Regions from separate parts of the Homo sapiens genome. Here region 1 is linked to region 2. Evidence: fine-mapped expression QTL. A gene starts in region 2. The other region holds a variant in brackets. All regions are shown on one strand. Distances are from middle to middle. Region 1 overlaps SMARCA2 (SWI/SNF related BAF chromatin remodeling complex subunit ATPase 2). Region 2 holds the start of SMARCA2 (SWI/SNF related BAF chromatin remodeling complex subunit ATPase 2).

Region 1 (8,334 bases), 48 kb after region 2:
AATGAAACAGGAGTCATCACAAGTGAATTTTTGTTGTTTGGGGTTGGTTATAGGAGAAATTAAACTATTCTCTCTGCTTTTGATTATATTTGAAAATGTCTAAAATATAGAGTTAAAGATAAAGTTTAGATCATGAATTGTCAAATTCTAAAATCTTTTTGTACAGTTAAAGCAACACAGAAAACAAAGAGCTTGGCTCAGAGTGCTTAATCACACCACACGTACAGTGTGGCTTTGTGCCCGGACTTTGCTGTAAACTCCAGTGTCCTGGGATGTAGGCGTCACACTTCTGTGTGTTTGTCCCACTTCAGACTCTGTGCAATGGCTTGAACAGCCCAACTCATCCAGTTTGCTACACTCCTACCAGTCAAAATGCAGACTGTCAAGGGGAGGACAGAGTGGAGAGTGGAGTTGTCTGCACGCTTATATTATGCTCTCATCCTGCTCTTCTTTCCTTAATAGGCTGAAGATGAGGAGGGTTATAGAAAACTGATTGATCAAAAGAAAGACAGGCGTTTAGCTTACCTTTTGCAGCAGACCGATGAGTATGTAGCCAATCTGACCAATCTGGTTTGGGAGCACAAGCAAGCCCAGGCAGCCAAAGAGAAGAAGAAGAGGAGGAGGAGGAAGAAGGTGCGTATCCTAGTGGTGGTGGCTGAGTCCAGGGTGTATGGGCAGGGATAAGTTTTTAAGGCGAGTATTGCTCTTTAAGTACTACTTCTTACACTGGTGGAAGGTTTAGATGATTGAATTGTGAAAATTGCATAAATGGGTATGGCATGGAAGTGTTGATTAGGTACACTAGACAACTATTGGAGGTAAGGGCATAATAATGGGATATACTAAACTAAAACAATGTTGTTCATAAATCATTGTTTAATAGAAGATTTTAAATTAAGTACATACAGTCAATTGGGAAAGGAAAAACAGACACAAATAAGTGTTCGCTTAAGTTTAATGCTAGGGTGGCAGGGGATTACTCAATTAAGAATGAAATTTAAGAAGAAAATGCAGTGTACAGGTTGGAAGAAGCCAGAGGAAGATATAAGCAATAGTTACTTGGACAGATGGCAGTGCCAAAGCTGTTCATTCAGTTCTGCTGTCCCTGTGTCGCAGTGAGGTGAGTGTGCACATTGGGGTTTTAGGTAATTACATAAAAAAAGAGTCCTATGTGAAATATCTCCTAATTATCATGAGAAATGAAGGGTAAGATTTAGAATCTCTGCAGCTATTATATCTCAATTCAAGAGTAACCTGCTGAGGATAGGCCTGTGAATATGATCCTCTTTGAAGCTTAAGTCATCCAGTCGTCTAGTTAGTGGTTGATACTGTGTGTTCATGATAAATTCTGTTTAGGCCAGGTACAAACATCAACTGGAAGTCAGAATTGTAAAGGTTGAGGATTGGTAGCATTTAATCATTCATTCTGTATACTGAATAAGTGAACAAAATGCTTTTCAAAAAACAATTAATTTCATGGCTCCTGAATCCTCATACCTGTCTCATAATTAAGGAGGAGGAATAAATGATTAAGAAGGCACCTTCTTGCACTGATTTCTTTAGTATAAGATAGCTTACCTCATTGTGAAGATGAACGAGAGATGACTCAGGGCTTGTGTTTAGACATTTTGTTGGTGAGGAATACCTCATTTTCTTGTCAGTGTAGCATTATAGACTGTGCAAAACTCCAGCTCCAATTCCTACCTTAAAAAGATGTTTTCAGAGTTAGTGAGGAACATATACGTAAGGGGGGAGGGAAGAATGATGGGGAAATAAATCATATAAATGTAGTTATTACCACTGAACTGTAGACTTAAGAATGGTAAAGGTGGTACATTTTATATGTCTAATGACTTCCAGAAAAAATTTTTAAAAATTAAAAAGGAATTACTGACATATTGATAGCAGAGAGAGAGATGGAATTCTGGAATATTCTGTAAGTGGACCCCATTAAATGGCAGTTTTAGTTTTTCCTAATTCAGCCATGTGTTCTGCAGAGGTTGTCACTGTTAGTGTTTTTAGTATTAAAATTTTTGTATTTTACATTTCTTTGTGATTAAAAGCTAATGACCCAGTTTTGAGATTATGGCTTACAATTAATAGATTTCTGCCGTGGTGTTAGATAGTTGCATCGTCGTAGGCAGAGAAAGATACACAATTGAGTGTTGATGATTATGCCTATATTTTTGTGTTCATCTGTACAGAACAGGGACTTGTCACAATTGTTTTTCATGGTGTTATTCTGCATGATCTGTAAGTTGGCACGCCCCTTTCAAACCCTTGCCTTCAATTTGGTAATAGCACTTATTCTTTGTGTCTTATGCTTGCACTCAACATGTGTTAACTGAACACTTACTATGAGCTAGGTCGTGTGCTAGAATGCTGGGAGAAGGAGGGGTACAATGGTGAGGAAAAGCATCCTGCCTTCTCTCACAGTTTAATCAGAGAGAGAAAAAGAGAGGCTAGACTGATATTAATCAGGGAGAGAAAGAGAGGCTAGACAGATATTAATCCAACATGCACCCAACTATACAATGACAAGCTGGGATGAATGTTGTGGAGGGAAACTGTTTCCAGTTGGAGGTGGGGCCTGATTTCTTGGCAAACGCGTAATAGTTGTCAAAGCAGCTACTGTCTACCTTACAGATATCTTTGAGTATCTCCCATTGATTATCTCACATGATCAATGTGCAGAATTTTTACTTTATGGTCAGCCATCTACCCTTCCTTGCATGCTCTTGGGTGCCTAGCATTTGTGCCCTCAGCAGGACTAAGTCGGAGGGGCTCTATTTCCTTCCAGGGTATCTTACTGGGAGAAGTGGGACAAAGAAGGGGGAAGAAAAAAAGAAAAGAAACTGAGGCCCTTAGCCCTTCCTGGTACCTGTCTCTTTTGCGGGGCTTTAAGACTTAGTTCAGAGCGAATTATCCAGTTCCAGATGCACTTTTATTCAAGTGCAAAGGAAGGGGATGCTTTAAGAAGCTGATTTGACACTTTGGATTATCTGTAGTTCTTCTTCCCTCCATTGCAGTGAATGATTGGGAGTTGCTTCTTCTAGCTTCTCTGTAGTGGAGGAAAACTTCTGTGTCTATGAGCATAAAAATCTCTGCTATCCTTTTTAGCACTTTTCCATAGTATTAAGTATTATGCTGTACCTATCAATATTTTTTAAATTAACAAATACTTCAATAAACCTTTGTTTTGAGAAAACCTACTTTACTCAGTGAGCTAGTAGTTAATAGCACTGAGCTGGTAGCAACACTTGAAGGACAACTAAGCTACTGATTACTCTAAGAAATGTGCTATTAAAGATGAATATGGTTGACTTTTTCACTTAATTTAATCTGAAAAAGATTACCTTTTATTTTCAGCGTTAAACTAGTGTACAATTTTTTTTTTTTAATTCCCTAGAAGGACAGAGGCCTCTGTCTTTCTTTGGGAGTTTATTGTGTTGACTTGTTGCTCGTGAATAATAGGGTAGGTTTCCTTTAACATGTTATGACCTTGTTTAATTTTCTCATCATTACAGACATTTTTAGGAAGTACACATTTATAAATCATTTTGTAACTTCTCATTTTCAGCCTGGTCTTCCATTAAAGCCCTTGAAATGGAAGAAGAAGAAGTGAACTACATGTATCTCCTTAAGTGTCAGAGGAGGAATAATTTTTAAAGTATTGAAAACCTAGTTATACGAAACTAATTTCTTTGATGTTACAAGATGAATGTGCTATTATGTGCGTTTAGCGTGACCTTGAGGTTTCCTACAGGGTACAAAAGAGAATGGGGCTAGATCAAGCCACCAGGGCCTGTAGAACTAGGATTGAACATGGCTGAATTAGAAAATTGGACCACTGTCTGAGTCGTGTTAGCAGGTAATCTTTTAAAATCAAAACTACATGAGAAAATATTTATACTAATTTGCTATTATTCTCTTGTAGGCTAGTTCGTTAAAAGATCTATTACCATAGTGCTTCAGTCTCATGATCTGTAAGAAGGCAATAGGAATGTTGTCTACCCCATAGATTTGTAGTGAGGATTACACGGGAAAGTTTATCTAAAGCATGTAGAATACACCCTAACATATAGTAAGTGCTCAGTAAACATTATTTCATCAAGCAATTCTATGATACGAAAGTGGAATCATAATTATAATA[C/T]GGTTATGTTTTTCTGAAAACAAATGTCTTTTTAAACCTTTACTGCATATTCTTTGTGATGTTGAATCAATAATAATTGGTCACCACTTTTTTTCTAGTTGGAAATCAGTTGAATATTAGTGTGTAGGATATCTTTGAGGACAGTGACAGATTCTTTAAATACTGAGGCATGCAGAAGAAAAATGAGGCTTTATCACAGGTGATAAACTCTGCCTACCACCCTGTTCCCCCAACTCCTACAAAGAGAATTTTCTAATTACATGGCCTCTACTTTACTAGGGTTCCTGGCGATTATGAGGCATCTCTCACAGTACTTTAGGGTACATTTTTCCTTAAGCTGTGGTTAGGAGCCCATACCAGGAGCAGCCCTGCCTATTGCTTAAAAGTTTAGCCATCAGCTGGGTGCGGCGGCTCACGCCTGTAATCCCAGCACTTTGGGAGGCCGAGGCGGGCGGATCACGAAGTCAGGAGATCGAGACCATCCTGGCTAACATGTTGAAACCCCATCTCTACTAAAAAATACAAAAAATTAGCCGGGCGTGGTGGCAGGCACCTGTAGTCCCAGCTACTCAGGAGGCTGAGGTGAGAGAATGGTGTGAACCCAGGAGGCAGAGGTTGCAGTGAGCCGAGACGGCGCCACTGCACTCCAGCCTGGGCGACAGAGCGAGACTCTGTCTCAAAAAAAAAAGTCTAGCCATTTCAGAGGTTCAGTTTCCAGAGCCGTTGACATCAGCCAAAACTAAATATTTAATTCTCCCTTCCACATCTTTCAGTGGGATGTATACCAGCAGAACTATTCTTGTGTTATTTATTTGTGACATTTTTTGGAAACATATGATACTAATGGGCACATACTCAGAATCTCTGAGGCAACACTAGACCAGATATAGTCTTCATTGGAGTGTTCGATTTTCTTTCTGAAAGTTCTTTTATCCTGTCTCTCTCTCTCTCTCTTTCTCCTTACCAACCGCTATTATAAGTAAATCTCAGGACTGTGATATTTTGCAGGTTGAACCTTCCTGGCATAATGTATTGGCCAACATAGTGGTAGGAAATGTGTTTTTATCCTGTTTAGATACCAGAATGTCAGAATAGCCTGCCGTTGGCACAGTTTTCAGTAAAAAGAGCTTGAAAAGCAAAGCAGTAATATTGAGACATTTATTTTAAATACAAGCTACTCCCTGATTCTTCTCATTTTTTTTAATCTCTTACAGTTTCCCCAAAGATTATATACTTTATTACAGCTTTCCTCTACAGGATTTTCATAGATGAAAGAAAGGTTCTAATGTAATTCTGGACATTTGAGTGTAGGAACTATTGTAAGGATAGGCGAACACAATGCCACAGTGATTAGATTTATTTGATTAGTTGAGTGTCAAAATGGGGGAGACCAGAAGTTTCGAGAAAAGTCCTGTTTAACTGGATTGACCAGTTACTTGAGTCAAAATGTTTGAATTGATTTTCTCTATAAGAAACAACCCAAGTAATTTGCAAATGCCTGCTAATTTCATATCCCTGGGCATTTTTTAAAATTACCCGATTACCTATCTTAATGCTCAAAGGTCCCCTTAAATGACAGTAAAAATAACTCAAGTGGTTTTTGAAAGCTTAGGTTTCCAGCAAAACAGAATGGATACTTCAGATACCAGCACATTTGAATGTTGTTTCAGTATATTATAATAACACCCACTGGGGGATAAAGTACATTCAGTTTATAATATAGATTGTAAAATATTTGATTTAAAACTTTATGTAATGAGGCTGTTTATAGCCTATGTTAAAGTAATCTAAATAAAATGGCCTACTGAAGTCTTCTTTTGAGTTCAGCTTACACGGGATTTTCATATTTAGAGATTTCTTTCCCTCCTCAGCCCTGTTGTTGATTACTTTTTATACCTTCTGCAAGGAAGATGGGTAGCCATGCACATACCTTTGCTTGTGAACATTGCTAAATGGAAGATATGAATTGACGTTGGCCTTGGAAATTGGGAACACACACTGTCTTTAGTTTGAGTAATTTTTAGTTATGAGTAATCTTTAGTTATGAATAATTCCTATCATGTCCCCTTACATGATTAGGTTAATTATACTCCTCCCTTCCTACATAAGCATAATTAGTTCTAAACTCTTTTGCATGTAGGAAGAAGCCAGTACAAAGTTTCTTGTTCAGTGTTTTGTTTTGTTTTCAATCAATGGAAATAAGTGCAGGCATCAGCCCTTAATATTGATAGCATGTGTCTGCAATTAAACGATGCAGATAACTACATATGAAAATTTCTCAGGTGGCAGGAGACGCTGTAGCAGCTGCTGCATTCACACCAGGACATTTCTTTAGGTGCTTAGAGACTGTCCGAAGTCAGCTCAAACAGTAGACCAATCACAAACTCTTGGGTGTTAATTTTGAACCAAGAAAAAGGGACAGTTGTGTTTGTTTTGCTTTGTTTTTTTAAGTTTTGAGACACAGCATGAAGTTGATGTGAGTACATGTGCGCACCAACCAGCAATGTCATCAAACTGAAGGAATCCAAAGAATGATGGGAGGAGTTGATATCTCTTGTCATAGAGTAGACTGCCACCTGGCCTCTATCTCTTAGAATAACATGGCAGAATTAGGTCCAAGGACAGGGCATGCTTGCGAGGAAAGTCACACAGAGCACCAATTCAATGGCTAATTGTGTGCGTGCTTTTAACTATTTTATGACTTGCAAATGTATTGGCATCTATTTATGATAGTAATAATTTAATGAGCATATGCTAAGTGGAAAGCATTGTTCTTTGTGCTTTCATTCATTCCTTCAATCACCAAATATTTATTTAGCGCCTTTTAAGTGCCTGATGCCCTTGTAGGTGTGGGAATGCACCAGTGAACAAAACAGACAGAAATCCCTGACCTCATAGCCTTATGAAGCAGTTTTCAGGAAATGCGACAGCCAGTCTTAATTATAGACATAAAAGAATAGTCCTCGGACTATCGTTGACCCTTGTACAATGTGGAGATTGAGGCTGGCAGCATATATATTACTTGTGACACTGGATTGTACATGTCGAAATAGTGACCCAGTCCTGCAGAAGCCCTAGGAAGCAGGCACTGTTTGTTACCGTTCCTATTTTATGCAAGAGGGAACTAAGACACAAGAGAAAATGATTTGCTCAAGATCATACAGCTAAGATCTCTTGCACTTAATTACAGAGAGCTAAGATTGAAACACAGTTTGTCTAATTGCAGAACCAAATGTCTTAAATCTAATATTACTCTGTCTCTCAGATTTGATACCTAATAGAACTTTAAAAAATAGTTTTGGGGATTTTAAGTAATGGAAGGGCCTGACTGTGAGGCAGTTTTTAGATAACAATCTAGCTAGTCTATAGGACATTCATAGGAAAGTATCCTTCAGAATAGTTTTGATTATATTAATATATGATGCTTCAAGCTTTTTAATGTACTATTCATTGAAGTGGTGATCCAATTCCACTTGCTAGATATTTGAAATTGGCTTATTCATTGTCTCATTTGATTTTCTTTGTTGGCCAAATTTGTAGCTTATTTCTGATTTGTATGGAAAGAATGGTGGGATTAATTGACTTTCCCCCATTAATTAAAACAGTCCCCTGAGTATAGATTCTGAGAACTCCAAAAATGGAACCTTCAGTGACTGGTAGCAGGGATGGTTTCTTTTTTGAATTCAAGGGTTCTGTTATTGTTCTCTGTGTCACTAGCTTAGATGTAGAGCCTGATGCTCTTTGAAGCTGATCATTTCTTTTGAGCTTATAAATGTTTTTGCTCTGAGGTGACATAAATAGAAATTTAATTACTTGGAAAATCATAACCAAAGGGAGCATTTTATTTCCTACTGTTTGGTGGAAGCTGCATTTTTTTTTATGCCTTGTGCTTTGGCATACATACATACATGTATTTTTGGTAAAAATTGCATTGTAAAGGAACTTCAGAAATTTCAAATGTTGATGGAACTGCCTTTCTTCACTATGACTAAAAGGCTGATTTTAAACTTTAAGTGTTTTCGTAAAAGCTATTTTGTCAAAAGACAGTTGAGTTATTTTCATAGAAGGCAAAACGTATTATATAATCAATATCTTAAGTAAACAAAGTTGAGTTCATATTGATTCTGTATCGTCATTTTTTATTTTTAATTAACTAAAGAGCCCAAGGGAGGAAAGCTCAT
Region 2 (8,334 bases):
GGGAGGCGGCGGTTGCAGTGAGCCAAGATCCCGCCACTGCACTCCAGCCTGGGCAATAGAGCGAGACTCTGACTCAAAAAGGAAAAAAAGAAAAAAGGAGAGAGAGGAGTGTTTATTTCTGTAATAAATTTACTTGTTAATTCTAAACTATTCTTTAAATTAAATGTCAGCTGATTCAATTTGTCAAATCTTGGTTTCCATTACTGAAGATGAAATACTCACTGCCTAAACGGTCTTACCTGCTCGTGTTTGAAGCTAGGCAACATTTCAGGCAGCATTAACAGTTTGTCTGTTGGGACTAGAAGCTTCCTAACGTTGTGCATGGAATTTTTCTTTATGAGGGTGTTGTATCCAGATACCAAGTTTTAAACCCAGTATCTACTCTATACAGAATGTAACCAAAGCAGACTTACATAACAAGTGAATGTGGCCATACAGACATGAAAAAGTGACTTCTATCTTTTGATACCAAACTAGAAAGAGAAAAGCAAGTTCAGAGAACACATTATGACTCATCAAAGTCCAAAAAGAAAAGCTGCGTGTGAACGTAGCACCCTGTGCAGCCTCCTGGAGTCCTTTTACCCTCCAACCACATTTGCTTTTGTATGATTTTCTGCAAAACAAAACAAAAAAAACCCATCATTTTCCTCCTTAACTTCAATTGTTAAATTTCGTTTTACCTCAGAGGTGAAACTCATGCTATATGTTCTACAATCTTCTTTTTGTACCAAGTGAATGACGCTGCCTTTTCATTTCTCCTGTGTTGAGGCCTTATTTTATAAAATTCGTAACTGCTAGGGTACAAACTACAAACAAGACGAATTTTTAGAGGAACAACTTGAAGGGTGATGGGGGAAGGTGGTGCTTTCTTAGACCAATGCGAAGGGAGAGGGAGATGCAATATCTATATTTAATCTCTGTTCCCAACGATGTATTTTAATTCCCATAGCTGTGTGTATACAATGCGTGGATACCAACGCCTCCAAGGACAACATCAAAATTTTATATGAGCTGAAGAATATACACATATAACAAAGGGAATGTTTTCTTCTTTACTTTCCCTGTGACAAAATGCCAGAAGGAATGGACAGTTTCTTTCTCCAGGGACTTACTAATTGATTTGTTTTTGTTTTTGTTTTTTTGAGGATTTGCATGGCAAGTGGAAGTAGAATCTTAAGGGGATAAAGGGCATTTATTCACAAGGGAATAAAAGTGAAGTTATCAATTTCTGAAAATTGGCATGTGAGGCCGGCATGCCAGAGAAACAAATTAGACCCCAAAAAAATTAAAACCTAATACTCTCAATGTAATAAGCATTGCTATTAGGTTAAATCTCTTTATTAGAGACAGGTAGGTTATCTGGCTATATTATTAGTTGCGACTTATTAGGCAGTTAGAAGTTAGTATTTATGTTACACTTTTACTATACTACTAGTCTTGTTTAAAATTTCTCCCTATATATTTCTCAGTTAATAGTTATACCGGCATATCCTCAGGCAGAAAAACAAGTTCTTACAATGGATCCTTCAGGGCACACTATATTCTATTTCTCTTAGCTGTGTTATCTTTCGTTGTCTTGAGGTTCACTTCAAGATAGACAGAAAATGATGAAGCTAAAGTTAACAAGCAAGTAGCAAGACCTTAGAAAGCTATAGGGTGGGTGATCACCAACACTCCCAGCCATCATGAAAATGCTGCCCTAGTGGGCTCTGCTTCAGCCAGCAGTGGACCAGTGATATAAAGAATTCTTGCTTCTTAATGACTACATGGCAGTATTTGGCGTTCTTTCCATTACTTCTTGTCTTCAACTTATCCAGCCTGAAGTTTTAAGCATCCTAGAACTGCATTTCAGACCCAGTTGCTCAAATGGAGTCAATTTTGCAACAGTAAAATGGTCTTAAAATAGGATTTTACTCTAGGGGGAAGAATCCTCAACCAGATAGTCACAGTGCACTTTGAATGACTAATTTAAGCCATTACATTACGAAATAAGGGATAAATCATACTTTTCATAACACTACTGCATAGGAACAGTTTTAAGAGTCAAGCATCTACATTAATCTGAGTCTAAAATAATAGGCCCCTGATTTAAAGTCTCCTAACATTCTTTCACACTTCATAAAACTAAAAATAAAATTGTCTCACCAAACACCGACCTATTGGTCCGGCCAAAGTACTGTATTTCAAGGAAAATTGGAGCAAAGAGGTCTCAAAACCGCGACTTGCCAGCAAATTACAATTTGCAGCCTTAATTGGTCTCAAATGCGGGGTGAGAGGGAAGAGACTACGGTCTGTAGAAAATAAGAGATTTATTCCCCTTTTTAAATCAAAACCAGATTCCATGCTTCAGCCGCCCCCTAACCCGCCAGCCCCGCCCCCAGGGTTTGTTTTTCCATATTTTTGTATATATTTTAGCGAAGATGGCAGGTGAGGGAAGGTTATAGTGCTGTACCTAGTCCACGAAGTAAACAGAGAGGTTAGGGTGGGTTTACTTATTTATAAGGCGTTCAGCCTCTCAGCTGTTTCTCCCTCGTTGGCATTTGGAAGCTTGCAGTCCTTCAGGGAAGAGACAGATTTGGCAGGAACGTTCTTTGTGCCCGCCTCCCTTTTCTATTTTTTATTTTTTTACCTGGAATAGGGGGCAGATTTATAATGACAGCCTTAGGGAAGGGGGAGAAAAAGTTTCAGCCGGCACGACAATGCCCGTTTTTTCCACAGTCCACACTGTGCCACAAACAGCTTTGGTGCCACTCGGAGCCCGTCCCCCGTCCCCTCCCTCTCTCTCTGCAGGCTCGCACTGGCAGGCGGAGGCACAGTTAAATTCCAGCACCTTCTCCACATACCCCCGAACTACTACGCGCTATTACTACGGCTGCCCTCCGTTTTCGCTTCGCCTCCTCCCCTTCCGCAGTCTCCCTGGAGGAGCCCCGCGGCGCCCGAGGAAGAGGACTGCCAGGGAAGGGACAGCGGGCGCCCAGCTCCAGCAGGGCTTGGGGCTTTCTGCATCCCGCGCAGTTTCTCTGCTCCAGGCACAAACGCGGCCCGAGAGCCGGCGCCTTGCAGTCACACACGGATCCACGCATACAGTAGAGCTGTCTAGATCCACATTCTTGCACACCGCCCCCTCCTCCCCCCGCGCTCCCGGAGTCGCTGAGCTGAGCGAGTGACAGGCGCGTCCCGCCAACCCGCGCCCGGACGGGCAGGGAGGAGCGGCGCGCGGGGCCAACTGCGGCGCGTCTTCCGGCGCCCGCGGAGGAGGCGAGGGTGGGACGCTGGGCGGAGCCCGAGTTTAGGAAGAGGAGGGGACGGCTGTCATCAATGAAGTCATATTCATAATCTAGTCCTCTCTCCCTCTGTTTCTGTACTCTGGGTGACTCAGAGAGGGAAGAGATTCAGCCAGCACACTCCTCGCGAGCAAGGTAAATATAACTTACAACTCTTTTCTCCTCTTTCCCCTCCCTTCGGCCGCCCCGCTGCAGCCGCCGCTCAGACCCCTCCGGCACCACGCCGCCTTCGCCCGGGATTATCCATTATTATCCTAATTATTATTTATTGTGCATGCAAGGAGACCAAAACAAACAGGCGGGCCAACCGCCGCGACAAAAAAAAGCCCGCCTCCTCCCCGCGGGCCTCAGGTGGAATGCTCTAACGACAGCTCCCAGGCGGCGGTGGAAGAAACGAGAAAGTTTCAACCGAACCTTGCTGTTCTAATAATAACAGTAATAATTACTACTTCAAGGGGGCAAAGGAGGAAAAAAATCCCAACAAGCCACAGCCTTGATCCTGAGTGGGCAGTCAGAGGCGCTGCCAACTCAAGGTTGCAACACACACATTGGGCCAGGTTGCAATCCCCCCATCCCCTTAAAAGTGAGGCGGCGGGGAGGGGGGTGGCCGCAGGAGGGGGAAGGCCTGGGGGACAGGGGAGGAGGATGGAAACGCTACTGTTCATCCCGGGCAACCCTCCCCGGAAGAGTTGGAAGGGGAACGGGAAAGGAGGGCGGGGAGCCCAGGCTGGCGGCGGGGCGCCAACGGACGCTGTTGCCACCCGCTTCCCAGGGACTTGTTCAAAGGGCTCCGGCTGCGGAGACGTGAGCGGATCGCAGCGGGAGAAGCCTGAGCTGACGCGCGAAGGAGGTAGCGGCCACTGCCGCGGGGCCGGTGCGTGCCTGATCGGAGGTGTCACCTCCACTTTCCGCGTTTCCTCCGGCGTGGATGGGGAGGCTGATTGGTAGGCAGGCCTTTAGGCAAAGGGGCTGCCAGGGGGCTGCGCCCCGGGCGCTGCGGACGTCCCTGCCTCTGGTACCTGGCGGCAGCGCAGGCTCGGGTGTTAAAGTTCGGGATGTCCGGCCCGGGCCGCACTGCTGGAGGGAAGGGAGGAGGCCCCCAAGGAGGTCGGAGGTGCCCGCCAGCCTCCGTTACCCTGCCCTCCCTCTCCCCGGGTCCGTGTTCTTTTGCTTCGCGTCTTCCCCTTGCTTGCGCCGCGGGAGCTGCGGGCGTGGGGCGCCTGCGATCGTCCGGGTGCTAGGGGCGCGCCGGGACCCAGGAGAGCCACGGCGGCGGCTGCGGGCCCGGGAGGCCATGATCCGGATAATCCTGTCTGCCTGACTGTCACAAACAGGACCCGCGCACCACCGGGCAGCGGCGGTGTGGTTCGCCCGGGAAGGGGAAGGGCTGCGGTGGGGAGGGAATAGGGGGGTGGCGAGGGCGGGAGGCGGGGAGACCGGGTAGGAGCCTCCTCCCAACGATGACACGCACTCCTTCCTTCTCGCTCCCTGCTCAGGAGTTTGCTTTATTCCCATCCCAACCTGGTTTACCCCTTCCTTTGCTCTCCCCCTCCACCCGGCCGTCTTCCCTTCCTCCCGTTTGCGTTGCAAAACACGGCCATGCCATCTGCAAAGGTGTCGCGATGCACTTCCCTAAATAACCGGTCCGGCGCGCCAGCCCCTCGGCGCCCTCCGGCCGCAGGGCGCACACGGAGCACAGTGCTCCCGGTGCCCCGCACCAGGCCTCGCAGCCTGGGTGCAGTTACACGGCGGAGGGCGGGGCGCGGCAGTGCGGGCTCCGGCGGACACCCGCGCCTTGGCCGGGGCACTTGGGCCGGTTTCCGGTACACGCGGGGAAATCGCCTCCTGCCAGTGTCTGATCGCTCGCCTCCGCCTCCGCCTCTGCCGCCTGGATTGCATTATTATTTTTATCCGGGTTGCCGTTTGCTGCGGATGGTGGTGAGCGCGGGGCTGGCTGGGCTGCTTGGGGGGTGGGGTGGAGGGAAGTTGGACGTGGATCAGGCAGGAAAAAAAAAGTTTGGCAGGGCGGCTAAGTAGGGTGGAGGGGTGGGAGGGGGCTGCGAGCTCCCGCGGCTCCAGCCTCCGCGCCCTCCCGGCCGGCGCGAGTGTGTCTGCGCGTGAGTGTGAGTGTGAGTGTGTGTTGTGCGCGCAGGAGCCAGTGCGTCGGGAGCAGCGGCTCGGGCAGCTGCTCCTGCCCGCACCCTCCCCTGGAGCCCGGGGAGGACAAGGCGAGGTTTGGTGGCGAGGGCTGGTGGGGGTGGCGTGTGCGTGTGGTTGTGAGTGTGTGTGTGTGCGCGCGCGAGCGGCGGAGAATCAGGAAGTCACAGCAGCGAAGCGCACACAGCACACAGACATGTTTGATTGCCGTGACATGACGCGCGCGAGGGAGGAAGCGGCAGCGGCGGGGGCCGGGCCGCGGGCTGTGGCGCGGGCCTAGAGCCGCGGCTCGGAGACCGGTTCCCGTCCGCCGGCCGCGCCGCCACCCCAAGCTCCGCGAACCCCGCGCCCCTTTTTGTTCCGCGTCCTCCAGGTAAGGAGCCTGCGCAGCCCTGCCGCCGGCTGTGTGCGGAGCTTTCCAGTTCTTTCCCTGCCAGCCCCCTCCGGTCTCCCGGCTCGCCTTTCCTGCAAAGTCAGGCAGGCGGGGGAAATGGGCTCCTTGTCCTCCGATCGATTGCGTGGAAAACTTTCCAGCGGGAGGCACCATGAGGGGGAAGAAGGCCTTGCTGGCCGCTGTTGCTTGTCAGTTCTTTCTCCTCCGGGTCCGGAGAGTGTGAGTCGCTGCGCCCGGGGCTGTTGCACATTCAAACTTCGGGCCTAAACGTACCTCCAACTCTCGCAGGTTTTACTCCAGCAATAAAATAAATATTCAAAGTCGTCCACTAGCTCTTGCTAGGCGTTTGGATTTTTTAAGGGAATGAGGAAGGCTTGGGAATCGAGGGAGTGGGGGTGTTGTGCAGAATCCATTCCTTATTCAATGTCTGCACCGGGTGTTATGTAATTTTAGTGGCACATGGGTGCAAAGCCTAGACTGGGCTTCTCCCCTCCTTTGTTTATATAACTTTTGGGTGAGTTTTGCAAGGTTGTCTCTTTTTTTTCCTCCTCCCTAACCTGATGGAGGTTGGTGCTTTGGAAAAAGCAAAGCGACCTGGGCTAGTAATCTTTTGGAGAGGTGTCATCATTGTCTCCTTTCTGGTCATTATGTAGGCATGTATGACTTTGTATGTGTACTGTTAGAGCTCAAGGAAGACATTAAGGATACACAGTTTGTTGACTGCACTGAGCGGTTATTTTTAACATTTCTGCGTTACCAATATCGAATTTCAAACTTCCATTTCAAAGGACTTAAAATTTACACCTGGTTGTGTGCCTTGCTTGTCTGAACAGAATGCTTGCATAAATAATGAGATTGTTGCTTGGGCGTTGAGTAGCAGAAAATTTCTATCCAACCACCAAAGACTCAGAAACCATTGAGAACCCTAATAATAATTTAAAAAGCCATACCCAATGTTATGTGTGTGTATACTTACATATTCACATTCAAATATTTTCAGTAGTATTTTCCATCTGTTATCAGGGGGGCCACAACCAGAAGCTTGTTGGCCAGCATTGGAGTTTTAGGCTTCCAGGCTACCTCTAGCACACTGGTGAAGTGTTAAGAGGCGTGGCAGATTTGAATCCTAGTTGCTGCATTGTTATGCAAAATGAGACACACTTTTTCTTTGAGGAATCTAATTGCTCTTTTATTCTCTTGGACTTTCTTTCTTTTTTTCCTCAAATGCTTCTTTACAATGCAAATGTTTGCTATTGTAAAGAGGGGATTTAGAGACACCTGTTAGGTCCAAAAGATACTTATTGCGGTAGACTGAGGGGAAAAAAAAAAACAACCCAGTAGATCAGAGGTCCGTCTACCTTGGGGGCATCAGAGAGATGCCATTTTTGTAAAGAACATTTCAAATGAATGAGGAATGTGGGGTATCAGAACCCTTGAAGAGGGTGAGGGGAGGGAGGGCTTCCTTCAATGCAGCCTTTCTCTTATGACTTATATCAGTAACAGCCCAGCATCAGGACTAGGTGCACTGTGGTGTTTCACAGAAAATATTCACCACAAGAGCATGTTCAAAGCAGCCTTAGATCTTTTCTTTTGTTCGTTTGTAAAGTGGTTTTTGAGCATTTCTCGTCAAGTTTCTTGAAAAGTGCTTTGACCAACACCTGAGGCTTAGAATTGACAAAAAAAAAAAAAAAAAAGTGCCTCGGCTTGTATTATATTGTTAATGCTTGAATTCTATTTAAAGTATTCCTGACATGGTATAACTAGAAAGTGACACTTGTGCAGATAAGTATTTAAAATTTTTTTCTTTTATTAAGTTTAAGATAAATCATTCTACAGGCCAGTATAAAAGCATATCACATCCTTTTCTAAAAGGTAATTGTGATGCTCCTTATATTGTTGTAATATTTTGACATTTATTATTATGTATTACAGCAAGAGCATAAAAAGAAGAGTTTTATAAATTATAAAAGTGGTGCTGTCCTCCAGTGTTTTCTTGTTTTTTTTTTTTCTCCTTTAGAAATCTTCCTTTGTAAACAAGGCCTTTGTCAAACTCTTCTAGGTCAGCAGCTTTTTGATACCCCAGAGAAATAATAAATCACTATTTATGACATCTTGACATGGTGCCATGAGGACAACTGAATTATCACATATGTAATACTAAGGACTGTTTCCCAGCATTTGCAAGTGGAAGGAGTGTTGGTAGGACCTGATTTAACCACTTTAAGATTTGATTCTGTTTCTGGTCAAGATGATTTAAGGGACGATAGGGACAAATTCTTTGGTTAACTTGAGTTACCTTAGAAAACTATATGAGTTACATTTCTTTTCTGCTGTATTTCTTGTGAACAGATGAGAAAATTTCCCTAGTATGAAAGCCACATTTAGGGGCTATTTCTGATTTCTCCTTTTTAATGTAAAAGAATTATCTTCTAAATTGTTTTTTTTTCCCCCTTAAATATTGTGTTTTGGAGATGTCTTTGGCCAATAGAGGATGTGAAT

Evidence for each region. PIP is the estimated chance that this variant, and not a neighbour inherited with it, causes the effect.
Region 1: its variant is fine-mapped to the expression of SMARCA2 in esophagus mucosa (GTEx, PIP above 0.99).

What each region holds. Positions count from the first base shown.
Region 1 is chr9:2,060,354-2,068,687 of GRCh38, forward strand. SMARCA2 (SWI/SNF related BAF chromatin remodeling complex subunit ATPase 2) reads left to right here. Exons shown (of 34, transcript NM_003070.5): 9 at 463-633. Among named protein-coding and RNA genes, the nearest start is that of SMARCA2, 49 kb to the left of the region's middle. The variant C/T (reference allele first, on the strand shown) is at 4,154.
Region 2 is chr9:2,011,986-2,020,319 of GRCh38, forward strand. SMARCA2 (SWI/SNF related BAF chromatin remodeling complex subunit ATPase 2) reads left to right here and starts at 3,362. Exons shown (of 34, transcript NM_003070.5): 1 at 3,362-3,419. RefSeq lists enhancers at 522-651, 2,862-2,911, 2,972-3,021, 3,808-4,364, 6,988-7,586 and silencers at 3,072-3,411, 4,552-4,721, 5,022-5,131, 5,282-5,471.